2 linked regions of the Homo sapiens genome follow. The protein of the gene in region 1 purifies or fractionates together with the protein of each later gene. This does not show direct contact. Each region holds a gene or a part of one and is shown on either strand. Other genes may lie near its edges.

Evidence for each region. Proteins that work in one complex are often made in the same cells at the same time.
Region 2: the proteins of ZC2HC1A (region 1) and SCPEP1 fractionate together in Homo sapiens (co-fractionation; one large-scale study listed by BioGRID). This does not show direct contact.

Annotation. Positions count from the first base shown.
Region 1 is NC_000008.11:78,711,089-78,714,588, forward strand, and holds part of ZC2HC1A (zinc finger C2HC domain-containing protein 1A), read left to right. Parts: intron 1-901; coding exon of another isoform or gene 902-1,018; intron 1,019-3,500.
Region 2 is NC_000017.11:56,991,631-56,995,130, forward strand, and holds part of SCPEP1 (retinoid-inducible serine carboxypeptidase precursor), read left to right. Parts: intron 1-3,350; coding exon 3,351-3,388; intron 3,389-3,500. UniProt on the Homo sapiens protein: May be involved in vascular wall and kidney homeostasis.

The DNA.
Region 1 (3,500 bases):
ATAGTCAGTGAATAAGTAAAGAAATGAGTGAGCAAATATCTCTTAAAAAGAACAGACTTTTAAAGTTAACAAGCAGTGATGTGTTATTCAGTAGCAAATAAGATTGTTTCCTAATGTCATAATTCAATTTTCCCTGCTTCCTACTATGACTAGATGTTGGTTGGTGATAGTTTATATGATTCAGTTATTTGGTTGGTTGATTTAAAACAGTGAAATATCCTACAAACCTGCAGTTTGTCCTGCTATCCTCTAGATGGAGAGCCTTTATAATTTTGGTCAAAATGTGTGTGTGTATATATAGGCCCCTTACCATTATTATATGTGATTTTTAGAATTGTCATCCATGTTTTTTTTTTCCATGCCGAGTCCTGTTTTACTTTGGATACATTTCAGAAATAAAGTCACTTTTTTGTTAGAAGTCAGTGGAGTTAGAAAGTCAAATGGAGTACATGTTATTTAGTCAATTCCTTATTTTTGGAATTTTAAAAAGCACGGAAATAAATAATATGAAGAGTAGAGAAAGTTTCCATGAATTCTGGGAGGAAGAAAAATCATTTGTGAATAACAGCATTCAGTTCACTTATAGCTTCATGATTTTTTTTTTGAAATAGTTGTTCTTCCTAAGTTTCTTCATTGATTCCATTGCCCTGCTGTGTATAATTTGACATTTGTTTGGATGTGTAGGGTAGCCTGTGTAGTCAGAATTTTCAGACCTAATAATGGACATTGTATGAACTCTCTGAGGATTCTTTTGGACATTAGTTCTTACCTTGACAGTCAGATAAAATTAAGGACTTGGGGAGTAGATATCTGATGAACCAGAATAATGTCTTTTAAAAAAACTTTATATAAAGAAGCAGTAGCAATCTCCTTATGGGTACACCTTTATATATTTTAATAGTAATATGGACAAGTTAGGCCCTCCACTTCGAACGGGAAGACTTGTGCAAAGGTTGTATGACAGTGATACAAAATCAGACAGTGCCATCAAAAGACATGAGTTATTACCTATTTACAAGTAAGTATTTGTAACTCAGTTTGGTTAATATTTTTCAGATATTTCCTTAAAAGCTTTATATAATGGAATAACATAACTTTTACTGTCCTATACTTAAAAAAATCTGTTGAATAATTTCTAAGCCAAAATGTGTCAAATAATCTAGGATTTAAAACATTTTGATTTTTAGTAAGCATTTCTGTTGTACTAAATAAAACTTTTTAGGTTATACATTTTATTCCATTAAATATTAATTTTTTGAGGTTTCAAATTGCAGTCACATTTAATAATTATTTTTATGAAGTTTTTTTTAGTAGTAATTAGGGTTTTTTGTAATAGTAGTTTTAAAAAGCAGAGTTTGAGAAAAATAATGTCTTGTACAGTATATAATATTGTTAGATTATCTCTTAGATAAGCCGATGGTGAACTATTATAAAAAGCCCAGAAAAAGAAAAGATTTTAGGAAACTTTCAATCCAAGGGTCCTTAGTCTTTTTGTTAGATGGTTGTAAATTCTGCCTACAACCGGGAAAAAGTATGACACTGCCAAAGAGTCAAGCTCGAGGAAGAGTATGACACAGCCAGTTCTGACCTGGCTGGCTGAAAAGAGTGTGTGGCAATGGCAGTTACTTTGAAACTCTACAGCATGAGTCTTCAAGGTTTACTAATTTGGGTCTCAATTCTAGCCCACATTTTAAATATGAAATTAGGGCCTAAAAATTAATATACCTATTAATGGTGGAAAATATTAAGCAGAGTAACTTAGTTAACTTTTAAACCAACACCTACTACAACAGTCTGCTCAGTATGTATGTATGAAAAGTAATAATAAATTTAACTAGATAAACAAAGGTAGGAGAAGTCTTTAAGATACTAGCAGCAGCCATTTGCTATTTTTAAGTAGTGATAAATCCTAGCAGGAAGAGTTTGTGCTGTGAGCCGTTTTTCATTTTGCTGATTCTACTGTCAGAACTCTCTGATGCAGATCTCACAGTAACAGTGACTAGCAGTAAGATGGATTAAGTACAATTCCAAAATTAAACCTTCTTTAATTATTCATATGAGCTGTTAACAGGTAGATTCTAGATACAGAGTAAGAGTAATGCTTTGCAGATTCTGAACAGAAAGAAAAATTTGTGGACTGTGTAAGACTGGGGCAAGATGTTTTAAGTGATCAAGGCCATTCTAGATGTTACTAAAAATAAATGACAGGTATTTAATATTGGTAGCTATTAATGATGATAATCTCTTATATTTTCCTCTAAATATAAACATTTTGAACAACCTCAAGTTACCGATATGGTGACATTATGTGTATATATTCATGGGTGTGTTTGTATTGTTTGTATATCTCATGCACTTAAGACGATTCTATAGCCAAAAAAAAAAAAAGTGTTCTTCCTATTTAAAGTCCATTCTTTGACAATGATTTCCTAAAGATTGAATTTCTAGAAAAAGACTCTAGTAGTTCTACAACATCCCCAAAGAGGCTATACACAAGAGTAGAGTAAACCTCATGAATGGACTTGGAGTGAGCATTTGAAGAGGTGCAGGGCATTCCATTCATGCACCAAAGTGATTCTTTGCTTGTTGAAGTTTAGAAGTAATTTAAAGAAGTAACTATGCAAAGCAACCACTTTGAATGACAGCATTGTGTATTGAATATGAGTTCTGTAATACAGCCCACTTAAGTTCAAGTACTACTCTGGCCACGTAGTAGCCTCACAATTTATATAATCTCTTTGAACATGCTTCCACTTTAAAATGGGAATAATATCTTCTGAGATTTGGGGGACATTAAATAAGGCATGTGTAGTATCTGGCTTCATAATTGTCATGTAGTGGCTGTTTGAAAAATAGTGGATGTTGTTATTACCTGCATGTACTTTGGAAGCAGCTATTTACAATTTTAGGGTACTCTCTCCTACTTTGCCATATAAGTAGAGTAAGAAAAATTTCAACTAAAGTTTAAGAACCTCTAATCTGGAGGTATTTTTTAAAGTATTCTGCTGTTCATATAACACTGTTCACCTGTGAAATTTAAAGATTTGATTAAAGCTCTATAGAGAGGGAGGGAACTATGCTTCAATGAACATCTAAATCCTAGCTTTGGAACACACTAGCAGGGTCACCTTGGGTAAGTTACTTAGGGGCTCTTTACCTCATTTGTCTTATCTGTAAATGGAGTTATGAACGCTACCTATTTCATAGGATTATTAGGATAAATAAATTTCTATGGGCAAAATAATTAGAATTGTACTTGACATGGAGTAAGCACTATTATATAAATGTTAACTTATAGTGGCAACAACAGTAGTAATAGTATTAGCATCAGCTATCTAAATGTTTATATGAATTGTACTTTTTTTCTCATAACCTTTCTATAAGTGATCATTTTATAAATGATGAGACTCAGACTTGCTGTCACAAAGCTGTCAGTAGCATTAGCATTTGAATCTAAATTCATTTGAATTCCCAAGCCTCTGCTTTTAGTGTTATATCAT
Region 2 (3,500 bases), on another chromosome or scaffold:
AACTCAGAAGTGTGCAGTTTTGTAATTGAGCATCCGTGTTGCGAGCATAAATAAGAGTTGTTTATGTTGCAGACACCCAGGGTGTGGCCCCAGACATCTGAAACAATCATCCTGGTGGCGTTCACTCTAACACAGGGTTTCTCAGCACTGTTGACATTGTGGGTCATATAGTTCTTTTTGTGGGAGGCTGTCCTGTGCATTGTAGGATATTATCAGCAGCATCCTTGGCCTCTACTCAGGAGATGCTAGTAGCACCGCTCCAGTGTGACAACCAGAAATGTCTCCCTGGGGAACAAAACCATCCCTGATTGAGAACCATTGTTCTAACCTAACAAAACGTGATTTCCCCAGGCAAAACCAAACTATCGAGTTAGAAATCAGAAGAGAGGCTGCCTAGGGGCAAAGGAGGGAAATAAGCAGGAAAGGTACATGAGGGAAATATATCTTGATTGCAGGGGGTGGTTACACGGGCATATGCATTCATCAAAACTCTTCTGAAGGTACACTTGTGATTTGTGATTATGGCTCAGTTTTTTAAAAATAATCATTTATAAAAGGTAATATTTACCCCTAAAAGATAGGGATTTGCTTGTTACAGAGCCATATTCCCAATAACCATTACGACTTGGAATAGTATTTCTTGCCCTCATGTTTGCCATCTGCAGGGTAGGACTGAAGTAGCATAAAACTGAGTCAGCATGAAGAGGAGGGCTGCTATTCGTTTATCTGTCTTTCCTTCCTGGATGGATCTCGTAGGACATCATAAAACTGCAGAAGCTTAGAGAAGCATGAGAGTTTCTTGTCAGATACTGCTCTTTTGTTCATGTTGATGGCAAGACAAAGTCTCCATCAGGTCTTGCAACCCAGAGGTGTGCTGTTTCATAACTGAGCATCCTCACTGGGAACACAGATAAGAGTTGTTTATGACTCAAAATTATGATGCTGGCCCTCTCACTTCCTCATGGGGTCTCCTCAGTTTCACAGTAGCACTAAGTACTTTACATGTGCTAACTTCATGTAATCCTTACAACAACTCCATGGGATGGATGCTATCATTATCCTAATTTTGTAAATGATGAAACTGAGACTTAGAGAGGTTAAGCAACTTTCTTAGAGTCACCTAGCTAAATGGTAGAACTGGGATTCAAATCCAGGCAGCAGGTACTGGAATCCAAGCAACCTAACCACCTTGCTACATTGTCTCTCCAAGATCAGTACGTTTCGCTTCCTGGCTTTGCAAGTGTTATTCATTGTGTTTGGAATCTACCTTTTTCTCCTTGCCGTGACCCACTTTACCTTATGAATCTGTTTGTCTGGATCGTAATCCATCCTTCCAGATCCACTTTAAGTATTGCCCCTCTATCCCAGAAACATTGGTTTTTGAGGGAGAAGTATTGTTAATTTCCATGAACAATTGTTAATTGCTTGCTAGGTAGTAGATACTGTTCTAGGTGCTAGGAAAAGATACACAGATAAGCTCCTGATCTTCAAGAAGGTCTTGATCTGCACTGTCACTAAGCCCATGTGACCATGTCAGTATGGTAACCACTTGCCACATGTGACTATATAAATTTAATTATAATTTTTAAATACAATTTCATTTTTTCAGGGGCACTCTCTACACCCAAGTGCTCCATAGACACATGTGGCTATTAGCTAGCATTTTGGACTGCACAGATACAGAACACTTCCATTACTGTAGAAAGTTCTATTGAACAATGCAGGCCTACTTCAAAGATTGGTAAACAAGGGCCCATGAGTCAAGTCTGCCCTGCCGCCTGCTCTGGTAAATAAGTTTTTGTTGTTTGTTTGTTTTTGTTTGTTTGTTTTGAGATGGAGTTTTGCTCTTGTTGCCCAGACTGGAGTGCAGTGGCACGATCTCGGCTCACTGCAACCTCCGCCTCCCAGGTTTAAGCAATTCTCCTGTCTCAGCCTCCTGAATAGCTGGGATTACAGGTGCCCACCACTACGCCTGGCTAATGTTTTTGGTATTTTTAGTAGAGATGGGGTTTCACCATGTTGGCCAGGCTGGTCTCCAACTCCTGACCTCAGGTGATCTGCCCACCTCGGCCTCCCAAAGTGCTGGGATTACAGGCGTGAGCCACCGCACCCAGCCGGTAAAAGTTAATTTACTGTCTATGGCTGTTTGGAGGCTGTAAGAACAGAGTGGAGTAGTTCAACCGAGATAGGCTGGCCTACCAGGCCAAAATTATTTACTATCTGTCCCTTTACAGAAAGTTTACCAGTCTCTGGCCCAGATCAAACAGGAAGTGGGATGCATTGGAGAACTGCAGCCAATCCTGTGTTTTAAGAAACTAAGAAACAAGTTTGAAGGTTAAGCCCGGGAGGTGATTAACAGCTAGGCCACGGAAGTCCTGGTGTGCTTGCATTTCTCAGAGAGTACTCTAAAAGAATACCAGTCCAGGCCAGGTGTAGTGGCTCACATCTGTAATCCTAGCACTTTGGGAGACCAAAGCGAGCAGATTGCTTGAGCCCAAAAGTTCGAGACCAGACTGGGCAACATGGACTTAGTTCCTGCAGAACTAAGACTACTTGAAACCTACTTTGAGACACTTTGCCTTAAGGAGCCATTGAATACTTTTAAGCTAAGGAGAGACATACTCAAATGTGCTTTATAAGTTGAGGTCCTTGATTCTTTGTTGGCGTGTCTTTCAATAGCACTTGTCTTACCTAGTGATACAGTATTTAATAGTTGTGAGCTTGTCTAAACCAAGGTCAACTACTATTCTCTTTGAGGACAGGCATTATGTTACTCACATTTATATCTTAAGCTTTTGCTGCCTCTAGACCCTTAGTAAATTCTCAATATGTTTGTGGGATGGGAATAAGCCAATTGGCAATATAGCCATTTGCACTGTTGCAAACTCATTAGTCATCTTCCTTATTTAGCTCCTTGGCAGAAGCTAATATCTCCAAACTGGAGGAGCAAATAAGATGTAGAGCAGAAATGTGAGGGTGGGGAAATATTTTAAGCTGTCAAAAGGCCTAGAGGTCCACAGATAAGAGCCTCCACCTGCATACCTACAGCCTGCCTGTGGGGATGCTGTCATCGGCAATGACTCACTTGCTGGACCAGTATCAGGCCAAATTAATGTGCCATTAGTCTTAAGAGTCAACAGAAAGGCCCCCACACCCTTATCCCACCTTCCAGACACTGAGACATCAGCCCGCCTCCTGCATGGGTACAGGTGAATTGAGGAGCCTTCCAATCCAAAGCCACCGGGTTTCTTGCTTCTGTCTCTTTCTTCTTTAGAGAGAAGACAGTAGGTTTGTCTTTGGAAAGACAGAGGTATGACATACTTGATTTGTACATATGTGATTTCCTTTAGATTCGGTGCTCTCCTGGGGACCTTACCTGTACAGCATGGTAAGTAGATACACATCTGCACCCTCTGGGCAAACAGCCCAGCAGATCTCTTCTGGCTGTGACCCCAGGAAAAGAGATGCTGGATGAGTTTGCCTATGTGGTTGACACTGCT